2 separate regions of the Homo sapiens genome follow, and region 2 is linked to region 1. The links come from fine-mapping of genetic effects on gene expression. Tissue or cell type: subcutaneous fat. Region 1 holds a variant in brackets; the other region holds the start of a gene. All regions are shown on one strand. Distances are from middle to middle.

Region 1 (8,117 bases):
TACTCACAGCAGCTGTCACTGCATCCTCAGGTTCTCTGTCTTCAAGTGCCCTCCTAGCTTCCTGAAACAACCTTCTCTATCTAGAGCAGATTCTGCAGAGAGGCCCCTCTTTAATTCATATTCTGAAACGTGCTTGTTATTGTTGACGTACAAAAACTTATGAATAATTCAATAAATGAATCTTGAACCATCCTATTTATCATTCAGTGGTCTAGGTACCCAACTCTAGAGGAAAGCTTTTCTGAAATACACGGTAAGTATCCCCCAACCCTCCCTCAAAGGAACCAATTATGAACACTATACAGTCTTCTCTCCCTTCTCACTCCCCATGTCAAAGTTCATTGTGTTCCTCCTGCAGCTGATTTAAAAGTTGATCTTTTCAAGGAGCTGGATTCCTAAGGTAGTTCTATTTTGAGCCTTCTTCCTGTTCTGAAGCTAAAGTTGGAAGGGCTTAGGTGGTGATGTCATGGAAGGGAGACTGTTGGTTTTTATAGGAGGGTCTTCTCTGGCAACTCTGGGGATGCTCAAATGGGGAAAACTCAGAGTGTTACTTTTGATCTTTTCCCCCCTCCTTCCCTTTATAGAATATCAGCTATTCCTTAGCCAGCAAGAAAACAAGTTCAAATAAGCCTGCAAACAGATTTACATATTTTACATGCTAAACATCTAATAAATGAAAAGACTGAGAAAAAGAAAAATGCCTCACTGTAAGGAACAGAGGGTGACAACCTCTTTCTCCACCCCTCTCCCCAAATATCTATCACAGAACAAGGGGCAAAGAGGAGGGGAGGGTCGACTGGTAAGCAGAATAAAGGGATTATAAAGCTAGGAGGCTTTTAGAGGGAAACGCTGTTGGAATATTCAGGACAGGAGACCCTTGGGTCCCTGCTCTTCCTCTGTGTTTTCCTCCCTTTTGGAATGGTTAGACTTGGGCTGGGTGTGTCTTCTGCTTGGGAGGCGTTTTTTTTGGCGCTGGAAAAGCAAAAGGGGCCAGGGTGGGGCCTGGGGAAAGAAAGCCAGAGACAGGCTGCTTAGGCCTGGCTCTGGGTTAAGCTTAAGGGGAAAATAAAGGGGGCTACGGAGGGACAGCAGATTCCATTAGAAGACCCAGAGGGGAATAAAAAACAGCGCACTGGCCAAAGGGGGTCACTTCTCTCTCTCCCTCAACCTAGGCCCAGGAGCTATTTGCTGGTTGGTGGGGGACAGGTCCAGAGGGAAGAGAAAATCCCAAAACATCTGCAGATCACAACTTGCCGGGGGAAAGGGGGGCTGGGGACAGACATGCCAAATTAAATCAGCAGGTGAAAGCAGCAATTTTTGGCCAATGCTGGGATTGCGGAGAGGACTAACTAAGAACCCTGGAGAGCAGGGGATTCCCTGGTTTCTCAGCTCACCTCTCCTTCAAAGCAGGGATAAGCACAGGTGTGGTCTTTCTCCAGGAAGGTGGCAGCTGGCGTGCGGGTAGCAGAGTGAGGGAAAGAATTCCTCGCACAGGAAGGCAGGGAGAAGCCCTGGGGTCAGCTGCGGCCAGGAGCCGGCGTCTCCGCCAAGTCCCCTCCCCCTTCCTGAAAACCGACCTGGACCAGCACAAATTACAGCAAAGCACCCCTCTCCCCAATAATGTTTCTAATAAAAGAAACAGACTCTCATGCCTATATTAAAAAACCACGAGCTCTAGCTGATGGAAATAAACAGGTGAGCCCGGGGAGAAGCGGGAAAACACTGGGAATGGGAGAATGAAGGGGGAGAAGGCGTTCCCGAACGTGCAGAGAAACCGAGGCTTCCCCGCCCTCCCTCCACCCTCCTCCCCTCCGGCCGGGGAGAATCTGCGTGGCAGGGTGCAAGCTAAAAATGCCACTGACGGACCCCTCTTCCCGCCCCGTGCCCGTTCTCCCTCCTACCCCAGACTCCAGCGTCCCGGCCTCGTGGTAGCGCCCGGTCCCCGGCGCCGCGCGGGGCTCGCCCTCTCTCCGGACCGCCGCCGCCGCGGGGACTCCGGTCTTCCTCTCTTCTCCCTCCCTCCTCCTCCTCCTCCGGCACCGCCGCCTCCTCCTCTTAGACTCCTCCCGCCGGATCCTTCATGTAAACAACATCCAGGCTCTATTTACAGTCGCCGCCGGACGGCAAGGGACCCACGCCAGCACCCTGGACGCGGGCGGGGGCGGGGGAAAAGCGAGTGCGCAACATTTACACACACACCCCGCCCCTCCGCGCCGCTCCCCTCCGGGGGCCGAGCCAGGCGCCCGGGGCTCCCCGCGTTGCCACTGACACCCCAGCGAGGGCCGCGCAAAACCGCGGAAATGCCCATGGGCGAGGTCGCCCCGCTACCCCTCGGGAAAAACACACGCACGCGCTAACAACAACAAACCCAGTCCGGCAACACCCTCGCAGTCGGTCCCGGAGTGCGGAGGCCCGGCCCGGCCCGCCCCGCGCCGCCGCCCCCGCGCTCCGCCGCCTACCCCGAGGTGGCGAACTGCGTGCGGTCCCCGGAGGAGGCTGAAGGCAGGCGCTAGGCGCTGGGCAGTGGCGCGCCCTCGGCCCCCGGCGCCGCCTGGCCCGCCCCCAGACCCCAGTGCGGATGCCTAGCGGGCCGAGCCCCACGGCTGCGTGTGCGTGTGCGCCGCGGCCAGCCTCGCCGGAGCCGCTCTGTGCGCCCCACGGCTTCCCGCGTCCCCAGGCCGGCTCCGACGCGCCGCGAGACGGGGCCGGGAGCGCAGCAGCCAGCGCTCCACGGCGGCGCACGGGCGCGCACTCGGACGTCCACACTCTGCGCCCCGAGCCTCGCGCGGCCGCACGCCCCACGCAGCCCGCCTCCCGCGGGCGCTCGGCCCCGCGCGCCCCGCCGCCCCCGCGCCCGGCCGCCGCCCCCACACCCACCTGCGCCCCCGGGGGTCCCGGGCTCCCCTTCCTTTGTTCTTCCCGCTATTTGCATGAGGATTATCTAATGACGCAGCAAGGCTCGCCACAACGTGACCGTCGCCATTTTTCTGTTTTTATTCTATCTCTGCCATGTGATAGATGGCGGGGGGGTTGGAAAAGGGAGAGAGACGGGATTAAAAAAAAAAAAAAAAAAAACTTCCGGGTCTCATGACCGGGAAGGGAGAAAAACAAAAGGGAGACGAGACACAACTCTAAGGGAAGGATGTGTGTGCGTGCGTGTGTGTATGAGAGTGTGTGTACGTGCGCGCGCTCTCCCTCCTCTGCTGGGAGAAAGGAGGCTCCGGCAGCGGACAGGCAGCAGCCATCCTCCCACCCTGGAGACCAGTGGCCCCGGTGGGTCCAGCTCGCACCCTCTGATTGTGGCGGTCGCCCGTCCTGGTCCCCCACGCGCCGCGGAAGCTGGGGGAGCTGTCAGCCTGCTCCCCTCCTCTGGCTGCCTTCACTCGCCTGTCCGCCCCAGAGCTCGCTTTCCCTCCCGGGCGGCTGTACCGTTGTGGGCTACGTTCAGAGAAGTCCCACTATTGCCATGAGCAGGGACATAATAGAGTTTAAAGGCCGCCGTATTTTCTAAGTTTTAAAACAGTTTGCTTCGACGCCGTTGTTTATGACAACCGCGTGGCAACACCAGGCACAATCTAATGTTGGTTCCAATCCTTCCCCTCTTTCTCTACCCCCGCTTTCCCCCTTTTCCCAAAGTGGGGCACAACTTGGTGTGGTCTTCAATGGGGATTGGTTTTGTGGGGATGGACCATTCACTACGGATTGATTGATTTAAGAACCGCTTATTTAAATAAGTGGTGTTCAGGGTCAGAGGATTGTTTCAGAAGACAGTTGCATAGAGCAAGGTGGATTCGTGTTACACTGATCTTATTCACATTCAAAGGGAGTGATAGACATTTCATTCTTTCCGAAGTTCACAGTTGCTGAAAAAAAAATATTTGGGAACTCTGCCACTGTTTTCCGGTGAGATATAGAATTTTGTACTCTTGTTTACTACTGGGTTCCCTTCAGGCACTTTCACTTTTGTTTTTCGTGAGTTTCCTTTCTG[GT/G]TTTTTTTTTTTTCCTCTATTTCTTAATTCAGAGCAGAAATGGACTTCATAGTTGAGCAGGGTTCCTGGCTTTTACAGGGAGAGAAACGGAGACTCTGAGTAGTGCTAGGAGTTGCTCTAGGGCACACATTTAATTAGAGCCCAGCTTGGATTGCGCCCTGCTCACCTGTCGTTTCTCTTAGGGGTTGGCTATAAGAGGATGGGGTGGGGACGGGACTCACGGAACATCGCTATGTGCTTATTGTGAATTATTTTTATTAGACTCACAGAGTTGACCACTCTCCCCTTTGTGCATCCACTGTATGGTTTTTACATTTATTTTCTGGTGCCTTTCACAGATCAGCGTACGGCACAGTTGCTGTATCTCCCACTAGGGTAAGCTTTGAGGCCAGGGCCATGCCATACTCATTTTATATCTCCCATATTTAGCACCATGACTAGCAATGAATGAGCAAATGAAGGCCTGAAGAGGATCTTTTCCATAATTCCATCCTAGGAAATTCCTTGCATGTTTCTGGTGAAGGTAGAACACTGGAGATGCTTTTTGATTCTTACACCTCTGCAGACCATTTTTGGCAGTCTTCTTTAGTTACAAAGCCAGGCAAAACATGTTTTGCTTTTCTCAATTTTTTAAATCAACTGCTTCCCCCCTCGCCCCGCCCCGCCCCTCGTTTTACCATATTTGGTTCCTCTTCTTTAAATTCTTTCTGATTCATATGAATAAATTAGTTATGCCAACCTTTGCACTTTGTGAGTTGCTTTTGCTTTTAGACTCCAAAAGTTTGATAAAGTTTAAGGTGTGATTTAACCTGGTGCAGACTGGAAGCAAATCATCATGGGCAGACAAGACTCTGATTCTTCCTGGGATCACTGAACTGGGAGACTGGCGGTTGAGCAGGCAAAAGAGGACTGTTGAAAAGATGTTAGCATCAGGCAAAAAGTACACGTTTACCAAAAACAACAACGACAACAAAACAAACAAAAAACAGAATAACTGCCGTATACAATTACAGCTCAGAGGAGGATCTGGATTGTCACAGATCAGTTCTTATACATCTGGACTGATAAGGTTCCATTGCATATCTGAACATGATCTACATGTATTCCTCTGGATGGGGTAAATGAAATTGGTATGAATGATTGTAACATCTACAACCCATATGTTTAATCCTTGATAACAACAGTGTGATAGTAATTTAAGTATATCATCAGTTTGCAGTCAAGGTGGAGATGAAGTCTAATTATATATGTAAAGTCATTTGTTCTTTTGAATACAAAACTGAACAGAAAAAAAAAGAACATGGCTCAAAACATATAGTTATAATAAATACCTCCATACCTCTTGTTTTACACACATGTGCACTCACACATTTTTAAAAAATCAAACTTTAGTCTTCTGAGGTACCATGTAGTGGCTGATTAAAGGAAGTTCTTATAAGCACCTCACCAGTCTTCCTCTCTCCAATATGTACTTGAAAATGACAATTCCTGGAGTCATGGTGAGAGCACAGACTTTGGAGTCTGGTACTAATCTCAGCTCTGCCAATTTGTTAACTGTGTCAGTCTGGGCAAGTTATTTATCAGTTGCGATTCTTAGTTTCTTTACCCATAATATGAGCATTATAACAGCTAGCTCAAGAGTTTTTAGAATTGAAGTGTAATCAAAATGTATTAAGACATATGTAAAGCACCTAGCATGATACTCGGAAAATAATCTTCAATAAAGGGTCATTATAATAATTTTTAAACTGCATTTTATTTACCCCATGCACTTCCCAGAATTATTCTTTCCCTTTTGGCTGCCTGACCTTGGAAATTCAATAAACCTACTATTAATGAAAGTTCTGTGACTATGAAGATAAATCAGAATAGTTCCTGGCCTCAAAAAGTTCACACTTCAGCTTTGGAAGAGATACAGATACAAGGAACTAGACTGATACTGGTAACCGAAAGAGAAGACCACTTTGTACCAGTTTATGATGATCTACCTGAGCTGTATTTAATTAAGATTGGGTTTTTTTTAAAGATTTACTAGTATCGACACAATGATAAAGCTTGTGGAAGCAGGAAAATTCAAGAAAAAAAATCTCACATTTTCACATAAATGAGGAATACTATCTTTAAAACTCCATCTAGTCAGTATAATTCCTCAGCTTTAAGAAACAATTTTCTGATCCATTATAAGAGGCAAGCTTCTTTTGCGTTCATGTGAAAAATATGCCAGGTTGTACCTTTGAAGTAATGTTGGAGAAATGTAGTTAATAGGAAGCACTTCTGGTTGTTAATTAATTAAACCACTTTAATCAAGAACTATTTTCTGAGAAACTTATTCCCAGCCCTGGGTGGGGTGCTAAAGAAACAAAGATGATGAAGATAACAGACTTTGCCCTTATGGAACTCATCATCTAAGAATCAAATGTTTATTGATTACCTACAGGGGATGCAATAGTGAAAGAGATACTGAGCTTAGTCTATTGAGAGATTGATATATACACATATCTTTCTAGCTTCCTCAAGAAGTATGTGATTGACACAGGATTTGGGCAAGACACTCAGTATATATATGTGTGTTTATATATATATATATATATTTTTTTTTTTTTTTTTTTTTTTTTTTTGAGATGGAGTCTCGCTCTGTCAGCCAGGCTGGAGTGCAGTGGCGCGATCTTGGCTCACTGCAAGCTCTGCCTCCTGGGTTCACGCCATTCTCCTGCCTCAGCCTCCCGAGTAGCTGGGACTATAGGCGTCCACCACCACACCCAGCTAATTGTTTGTATTTTTAGTAGAGACGGGGTTTCACCGTGTTAGCCAGGATAGTCTTGATCTCCTGACCTCGTGAATCTGCCTGCCTTGGCCTCCCAAAGTGCTGGGATCACAGGCGTGAGCCACCGCACCCGGCCTGACACTATATTATGTATATATAAATATATTCGGCCGGGCGCGGTGGCTCACGCCTGTAATCCCAGCACTTTGGGAGGCCGAGGTGGGCGGATCACGAGGTCAGGAGATCGAGACCATCCTGGCTAACATGGTGAAACCCCGTCTCTACTGAAAATACAAAAAAAAAAATTAGCCGGGCATGGTAGCGGCTGCCTGTAGTCCCAGCTACTCGGGAGGCTGAGGCAGGAGAATGGCGTGAACCCGGGAGGCGGAGCTTGCGGTGAGCCGAGATCGCGCCACTGTACTCCAGCCTGGGCAACAGAGCGAGACTCCGTCTCAAAAATAAATAAATAAATAAATATATTCTACGCTCCACCAGAGCTTTTTTTTGTTCCTTAAAACAAAGAGTAGGCTGGGCGCAGTGGCTCACACCTGTAATCCCAGCATTTTGGGAGGCCGAGGCAGGTGGATCACGAGGTCAAGAGACCATCCTGGCCAACATGGTGAAACCCCGTCTCTACTTAAAAAAAAAAAATTAGCTGGGCGTGGTGGCATGTGCCTGTAGTACCAGCTACTCAGGAGGCTGAGGCAGGAGAATCGCTTGAACCCAGGAGGTGGAGGTTGCAGTGAGCCGAGATCACGCCACTGCAATCCAGCCTGGCGACAGAGCAAGACTCCATCTCAAATAAAACAAAAACAAAGAGTAGCTCTTGAAAGAATAGTTGGTCTCTGTAGCCCAAGTGAACCTGGAAACCTGGGAGCCTTGCTAGCTTTAGGCAGAACTGTGAAGTGGGTTAAGTTATTTTCAATTTCCCTCAAATCTGAACTATTGAAATAGCTTTCTGGTCTCTCAGTTCCTGTCCTTCTGAACTCTGTTTTGTTTTCCACAGGCTACTACAGTGATTCTAAAATGCAAACCCTGTTACACTGTTCCCCTGCTTAAAAAACTTTCCTGGCTCCCCATTATCTGCCAAGCATGACACACAAGACCCTTTGTGATCTTGCTCTGCCAAGCCTTCCAGCCTCATCCTCCATCACACCCACAGGAAGAGTTGCCAGATTTATTAAATAAAAATATGAGACGCATAGTTAAATATAAATTGCAGATAAACAATAACTTTTTGGCATAAACACGTCCCAAATATTGCATGACACATACTTAATACTAAAACATTTCCATTGTTTATCTGAAATCCAAATTTCAGTAGGCATCCTGTGTTTTATCTGGCAACCCTACTCATGCCAGGC
Region 2 (8,117 bases), 79 kb after region 1:
CTCCTGCCTCAGCCTCCTGAGTAGCTGGGATTACAGGCTTGCGCCACAACGCCCAGCTAATTTTTGTATTTTTAATAGAGATGGGGTTTCACCATGTTGGCCAAGCTGGTTTTAAACTCCGGACCTCCATCCGCCTTGGCCTCTCAAAGCGCTGAGATTACAGGAATGAGCCACTGCACTCAGCCTCAGATCAATTATTTAAACAAACTCAGTCAATATAAAAAAAATTAAAAAAACATGATAAGCAAATAACAGCCAAGGTGGTACAATGTTATGGCAAAACTGTAAAAATAGTGTGGAAATAATTGAAGTTTAGAGGAACAAGAGCACTGTGCTCAGAATGAGGAAATCTGATTTGAGGTCCGGCTCCCTTTGTACTATCGTCCCAGGCAGGCAATGCTGCATGGTACTGAGTGTGTTATGAGGGATAGAGACTTGCCAACATTAACAGATTATTACAAAGGGTATATGTTTGAGTACAGAAACCTCAGACTTTATAGTGTTAGAGGGGAGACAAAAACATAAATAGTTGTGTAATAACTCAAAGACTGTGATAAGTATTACAAATGGGTTAAAAACCCTAGACAAAGGAAATAGGAAGAAGTTAATTACCTGAGTGTATGTATATGATAAGAATGGCTATCATTAGGCTGGGCACGGTGGCTCACACCTGTAATCCCAGCACTTTGGGAGGCCGAGGCGGGCGGATCACAAGGTCAGGAGATCGAGACCATCCTGGCTAACACGGTGAAACCCCGTCTCTACTAAAAAAATACAAAAGATTAGCCAGGCGTGGTGGCAGGTGCCTGTAGTCCCAGCTACTCAAGAGGCTGAGGCAGGAGAATGGCGTGAACCCAGGAGGCGGAGCTTGCAGTGAGCTGAGATCGTGCCACTGTATTCCAGCCTGGGCGACAGAGCAAGACTCCATCTCAAAAAAAAAAAAAAAAAAAAAGTGCCAGGGAACTGACTAGGTGCTTTGTTGTATTATCTCATTTATTTCTCACCATTCAGGAACTGGGTTTAGAGAGGCTAAATAATTGACCCATGATTAATACTGGTGATGATGATGTTTACGACTGAATACTTATTGTATGCCCAGCCCTGTACTGAGTCCTTTATATACATGATCTCCATTTAAGCTTCACCACAAGACTCTGAGGTATTATTTTCCTTTTACAGATAAACTAAGGCTCACAGAGATCATGAAATTTGCAGTTAGTGAATGGTGCTGTTGCAATTTGATCTCAGGTGTGTTGGACTCCAAAGTCTGTTTCTTCATCTTCTGCTTCACTTCCAAGTCAGCAGCAGCTGAGCTGAGGGACCATGAGATGGCCATGCACTGGGATGGTCCATTGAGGGCTCTTTTGTGAAATGCGAGGTTCCAATCTTGGTTTCTCTAATGTGTGTCACAACTCTTTGTTTAATAATTTATACTCCTAAAAGCATAAAGTCCTAGAATCATGTGGGTGGCTAGCACTGTTCCATGACACTATAAGGTAATGTTGGTAAAGACATTTCAAAAGTAGACAAAAGAACTAGGTGGTAGGGTAAGGTAGGGCTATAGGATAGCTAGTCTGTGCGGGCTAAAAGCCATATTTCCTGTGGAAAGTTACAGTCAATTCTTAATAGATATGAAGGAATCTTCAGGATGTACTAAATCCAACCTCCTCATTTTACAAAGTAGAGGTTAAGGGCCAAAGGTCATACATTGGCAGAGGAATCAGGACACCACACATCTTGTGTCTCAATGCTCTGTTCACTATGGCAGTGGTTTTCAAGGTGTGGTCTCCAGATCAGCAACCTCAGCATCACCTGGGAACTTGATGGAAATGCCCACCTTCAATCCACTGAATCAGATTCTGTGTGTCAGGCCTCTAGCCCAAGCTAAGCCATCATATCCCCTGTGACCTGCACGTATACATCCAGATGGCCTGAAGCAACTGAAGATCCACAAAAGTGAAAATAGCCTTAACTGATGACATTCCACCACTGTGATTTGTTTCTGCCCCACCCTAACTGATCAATGTACTTTGTAATTCTCCTTACCCTTGAGAATGTACTTTGTGAGATCCACCCGCTGCCCGCAAAACACTGCTCCTAACTCCACCGCCTATCCGAAAATCTATAAGAACTAATGATAATCCCACCACCCTTTCCTGACTCTCTTTTCGGACTCAGCCCGCCGGCACCCAGGTAAAATAAACAGCCTTATTGCTCACACAAAGCCTGTTTGGTGGTCTCTTCACATGGACGTGCGTGGCACTATGCAGGGGGAGCTCAGCAACACGTTTCAACATGCCTTCCAGGTGATTCTGATGCATGCTCACTTCTGAGAGCCACTCCAAAGAAGTATCTGCTACATATTATACACATATACCCCCACCCCCAGACCCGCAAGTTCTTCCTCTTTGTTCCCAGAAAAGGTTTGAAGGGGCTCAGTATCAGGTCTACAGCACACTGAGATTTATTTATTTATTTATTTATTTATCATTTATTTGAGACAGAGTCTCGCCCTGTTTCCGAGGCTGGAGTGCAGTGGCGTGATCTCAGCTCACTGCAACCTCCACCTCCCAGGTTCAAGTGATTCTCTTGCCTCAGCCTCTGGAGTAGTTGGGATTACAGGCGTGCACCACCACACCTGGCTAATCATTCTATTTTTAGTAGAGACGGAGTTTCACCATGTTAGACAGGCTGGTCTCATACTCCTGGCCTCAAGTGATCCGTCTGCCTTGGCCTCCCAAAGTGCTGGGATTACGGGTGTGAGCCACAGCGCCCGGCCACACTGAGACATTTTAGAGGGAGATCAGTCTATGGAACAAATGCTGGCCTGGGGCTGGTGGCCTGGGTGTGCTGTCTGGCCAATTTTGTGCGTGGAGTAAGCAGTGGGGAGAGGCGCTGGGTGTCAGGAAACTATGCCAGGCCCTGCCCTCCACCAACCCCAATCAAAGAGCTGAGAGGGGGTTCTTCTCCACACCATCCCACTACTTGTGTCCCTCACCTTCTCTGAGTCCTGGGTATTGGTGCTGGGAACTCTGCAACAGATTTCCTGAAGGCAGGTGGCCTGTGGAAGGAAGGCAGAGGAGGGGGCCTGCAGAATGCAAAGGTGTACGGAAGGCATCTCTGCGCCCCTGCTGAAGATTTTTCACTTTATCCTGAAGGGAAGACAATATCTGAGGCCGGGAAATAATAAATATTGATTTTCACTTTATCAGTATTCCTGGCAGCTGCACGGAAAATGGAATGGCACAGAAACTGGAGTCTTATGGGCACTTATCCCACTAGTTGGGGTGGGAAATTAAAGGCTGTGTGTAAGGTGGGCACAGATCTAACAGAATGTGGATTGGGATATGCAGGGGAGGGTGGAGTGGGGGAAGACAGACTCCATTTGGACTTGGTGAGTTATAGGTGCAGCACCAGCATAATGCGCATGGAAGTCCTGGAATCATTTACCAAGAAGGTCCTGAACACAGGTGAGGGACATCCCCTTCTTCCCTGTTCCCTAAGGCGCCTAGACTTTGGAGTCAGTCAGTCTTGGGTTCCAGCCTCCCGCTAGGACGCAATTTCTTGAGAGCAGGATTCGATCTGTTGTTCACGGCTAGATCCTAAGCGCCTAGAATAGTTTCTGGCACACAGTAGGCACTCAATAAACATTTGCAGAATGAATCAATGAATGAATGGTCACGCTCCATTCCTCGGCTGTAAACACAATGAAATCACCTAGCCGCAAACTTGGCGCACAGTAGGCGCTCAACAAGTTGTATTTTTCCCTTCCCTTGCAGTAGACCGCGGTCCCCAGGCGACCGCGAAAGAAAAAAAGGGGTTTCTCTACCTCGCGTGGTCTGCACCTCGCTTCGCCCCCGCAGCCCTCGCTGGGTCGCAGGGAGCACGTGGGCCAGGCAGGCTGGGTGGGAGTGGAGTGGAGTGGAGGGGAGGGGGCGGCGGCCAGCGGCTCGCGCGGAGCCGGTCTCCCGGGCTTACGTAAGGCGCGAGTCCCGCGCGGCCGGCCGGGGCTCCGCGACTGGGCGGGCGGAGGCGGCGCCGCCCTGCAGGATCCGGGCTGGAAGCCTCTCGGAGTGCTGCCTCCAGCCAAGGTGTGTGTTTATTTGATTGCTTTTGGTGGCGAGGCGCGGGGCTCGGGCTCGTCGCGCGCCCCATGGCCGGGGAGCGCATCCGCCAACCCCGGGCGGAGGTGGGCCCCTCCGAGCGCGCGCGGGCGGCGGGCAGCGGCGGCAGCTGAGACTCCGGGGGATGTGACAGCCGCCGGGGAGGGGACGAGACGCAGACCACACGTTGCCCACGTGCGAGGACCGGGCAGGGGCTCAGCCCCTAGGCCGCCCGGTGCGTGGGGCGGCGGGGGCTGGCTTTGAGTCACCCCCGCTTGTGCCAGCTTCCCCGGCTCGGCGGAGACTGGCTTGGGGATGCCTGGCCGCCCGGCCCCCTTCTCGGACGCGGCGTGGGGAGCGAGCTGGAGTTAAGGATGAAGGTGGGACTGGCCGGGCCGACCTCTGACCCCTGGAGGCCGAGTCGGCAGGGCGGGGCACGGCGCGCTTCAGCAGCTTTGCGTGGGGGCGAGGAGGTGGAGGAGGGCGAGGAGGTGGAGAAGGGCGGGGAGGTGTAGCGTGGCGCTCAGTCCGCCTGCTACTCGGTCCCGGCGCTGGGCTGAGGGGAGGGGTTGTCTTAAAAGTCTCTCCTTCCCCCTGTAGGGGCGGCCGGCGAGTCCCAGTGAGAGCGGAGGGTGCCAGAGGTAGGGGGCCGAGAAACAAAGTTCCCGGGGCTTCCTCCGGGGCCGCGGTCGGGGCTGCGCGTTTGACCGCCCCCCTCCTCGCGAAGGCAATGGCTTCCAAACTCCTGCGCGCGGTCATCCTCGGGCCGCCCGGCTCGGGCAAGGGCACCGTGTGCCAGAGGATCGCCCAGAACTTTGGTCTCCAGCATCTCTCCAGCGGCCACTTCTTGCGGGAGAACATCAAGGCCAGCACCGGTGAGGGGCTGCGGGGACGAGGGCCGGGGGCGAGCCGCGTTGGGCTGGGGTGAGGCCCTGGAGGGACTGGGGCTCCCGGATCACGGCGCCCTTCCCCCGCCCGCGTGTGGTCGTGCAGGCTCGTACGTGCCGGGGCGCATGCAGCTGGCGGCCGCGCGGCTTAACCGCGCCTGGGGAGGAGGCCGAGGCTCCAGGGGCGGCCGGTGGGAGGTGCCCACGGCTCCTCTCCACCGCTCCTCCTGTCGCGAGGAATAGCCCGAGCCACCCGGCCGAGGGAACGAGAACTAGGCAGGGAAAACCCGGAGCTTCCGTCTCACGCTGCCCTCCTTAAGGCAGAGCCGTCCCCGTACCCCTTAGCCCTGGCCCCCTCCCCCGAGTCCCTAGAGAGCCGCGCGCCCCCTCCCGCGGGAGCCCAGAGGCGGAGCGCCGCCCACCTGTGGCAGTCGGGCGGGGCCGCGCGCCGGGGAACCTGTGGCGCCGGGGGGCTCGCAGCCTCGCGCCTCTCCAGCCCCTCCACGCAGCCTCGGGCCTCGGGGCAGAGCCCTGGGTGGCTTTGAAAGGCCTGTCTGTTCGTTGTCGCCTTCTAAGGTAAACTCTCCCCAGCAACTCCCCCCCCTCCCGAAGCCGCCGGGCCTGGCCGTCAGGAGACTCGGAGGAGACTCGTTCTGATAAATTACATTTTGTAATGCAGCTTTCCTGGAAATGGCTTCTTGAGCTGCCTCCCTTGGCATGAGATGCCTCCTTTGGCTGGCGTGGTGAACTTGGGGATATATAGATCGCCTGATTTCTTAGTCTGACGGGGTTGAGTGCGTCCCTTTCCCCCTCTCCTCCCACTCCACGTTCACACCAGTTCCGAAAGAATTGGCGTTAAAAGGCGAGAGGTAGCGGTTGTGCTGCTGCGAGGCTCTTAACCCTTCTGGGATGGAGATGCTGGTAATTAGCAACTCCTTTATGAAAAGTTGTTCTTCCCAGCAGGGGTCCTTTACTGTCGATGTACTTCTCAAGGATGTCCGGGCTGGTTATTGCCCATCATGGACTAATTATCCGGAGATCTGCATTTCAGAAGCACAGACTGGCTTGAAAAGGAAGGTGGAGGACAGTACCAGAAAACAAAAGGAAAGCTTAAAAGCAAGGAATTAAGAAGTATCTCCAGAATTGTATTCCTTATCTCTTAAGCAGATTGAAAAAGCGGACTTTTACAGGAAACTCTTCCCCCACCCCCATGTCTCAAAAGGAAGAATTATGTGTACCAGATTGCACTTGAGTTTTCTGTTGTGGGTATTGTTACCTCAAGTGCGCCTATTTTGATTTTAATACATTCACATGCATTTTATTCTTGAAATGCTGCGGTTTGAGGGGAGAGCGGCCTGAGGGGGAAGGCTGGCTCTCATCCTAATGGTTTTGTGTTTAGGTTGGGCTTCTTCATGGTAGGGGCATGGAGTCAGTGAAGGAAGACAGTGAGAAGAGATGAGCCCATTCCATAATTCTCTGTACCTGACTAGGAGACTTGTTTCCTTCTATGAGCCCATTCCATAATTCTCTGTACCTTACTTGGTGACTTGTTTCCTTCTGGAATGAAGGGCTTCACACTGTCCATCCTGGGACTGGACTCATAGCCCTTTCCATGTTTAAAGAGAGTGTGATGGGAAGTAGCTTATTTCTGCACTTTCTTAGGGGCTTTGAAAATTTTCCATTTGCTCTTTTCCCTTGTTCTCTCTTTCTCTCTCTCTCTCTTTTTTTTTTTTAACTTTCCTGTGTTCTAAATTTTAGTTTTCATTCTCTTTCAAATGCCTTCATTTCCTCCCCAGTGATCCTCCCTGGAGTGAGAAATGACTATGAAATGTTTAGATTTTCTTTTTTCTGTTGGGAATCAAGCAGCTTTTTGCATGAGCCAATTAAAAAAAAAACTTTATCAAAGAAAGAAGAAAAATAAAGGACAGCAATTTGTTTTGAAAGTGGCTTGTTTCTAGTGAACTTTCGGGTTATCGGATTATTTTTCCCTCTCAGAAGGTCTGAGAATCTTATAGGCTTACTGCCTGGTAAATAAAACATTCCTTTCCACGGTATTTATTTTTCTGTCTGTTACCTGCTGTTTGCTTTTAGCTGATTTCCTGGTGGGAAACACAACCACCCTTCTGTATGTACCCTTTATAATGGAAGGTTTGAAGGAGACGATGAAGCACAACAAAAACCCAGGAAATAGAACCGTGTAGGAATTTGAATTGGAAAGTAGCTCCGGCCATCTGCTCCAGCCTGGATTTGGGCACACTCTTGTCTACATGGCTTTCCTCCTCCTGCAGCCTGGTGAAAAGCTGCTCTTTCAGGAAAGGGCCATTCTGATGTCATTGCTTCTTGGAAGTCTTCCCTCACCTGCTCTGGCAGAATTCATCTCTTTCCTCTGCACATAACTTTTTTTTTTTGAGACGAGTCTCGTTCTGTCACCCACACCGGAGTTCAGTGGCGCTATCTCGGCTCGCTGCAACCTCTGCCTCCCGGGTTCAAGCGATTCTCTTGCTTCAGCCTCCCAAGTAGCTGGGATTACAGGCGTCTGCCACCACGCCCGGCTAATTTTTGTATTTTTCGTAGAGATAGGGTTTCACCATCTCTACGAAGGTTCGAGGTCAGGCTGGTCGCGAACTCGGGACCTTAGATGATCCACCCGTCTTGGCCTCCCAAAGTGCTGGGATTACAAATGTGAGCCACCGCACCTGACCTCCTCTCCTCTGCACATGTCTTATTGATTCTAATGTTGCAGTCATATATCATGCAGTGTAAAAATGCCTGTCTCACACCCAGTAAGATATCTGCTGAGTGGCTGCTGTGCGTCAATGTTCTAGGTGCTGGGGGCAATAGCATTAAGATAATCTTGTGCCTCTTTTATTATTATTTATAGATAGGGGTTTTGCTTTAGTGCCCAGGCTGGTCTCAAACTCTTGGCTCAGTCTCCCAAAATGTTGGGATTACAGGTGTGAGCCACTGCACCTGGCCCATTCTTGGGCCTTTTGTTCTTTCTGCCTATACCATTGTACAATTTCCACTCTGAAACTTGGAGGACAGGGATCAGGCAAAGTACCTAATGTATAAAAGGAGCTTACCGAGTCTGTATTAAAGGCCTGGGTCACAAATTCTAGACAGTACA

Which allele goes with the higher level. Positions count from the first base shown, and alleles are read on the strand shown. Sizes are in standard deviations (SD) of each study's normalised expression.
As copies of G replace GT in region 1, the expression in subcutaneous fat of the gene that starts at base 4,629 in region 2 goes up (small effect, 0.31 SD a copy in FUSION).

The links. PIP is the estimated chance that this variant, and not a neighbour inherited with it, causes the effect.
Region 2: AK4 starts here. The variant in region 1 is fine-mapped to the expression of AK4 in subcutaneous fat (FUSION, PIP 0.95).

The regions. Positions count from the first base shown.
Region 1 is chr1:65,064,727-65,072,843 of GRCh38, forward strand. It overlaps a transcript of JAK1 not described here. Among named protein-coding and RNA genes, the nearest start is that of MIR101-1, 10 kb to the left of the region's middle. RefSeq lists a silencer at 2,149-2,748. The variant GT/G (reference allele first, on the strand shown) is at 3,989.
Region 2 is chr1:65,143,575-65,151,691 of GRCh38, forward strand. AK4 (adenylate kinase 4) reads left to right here and starts at 4,629. Exons shown (of 5, transcript NM_013410.4): 1 at 4,629-4,978. The coding sequence starts at 4,834. RefSeq lists silencers at 3,796-4,035, 4,046-4,545, 4,926-5,225, 5,286-5,565 and enhancers at 5,159-5,877, 5,878-6,596.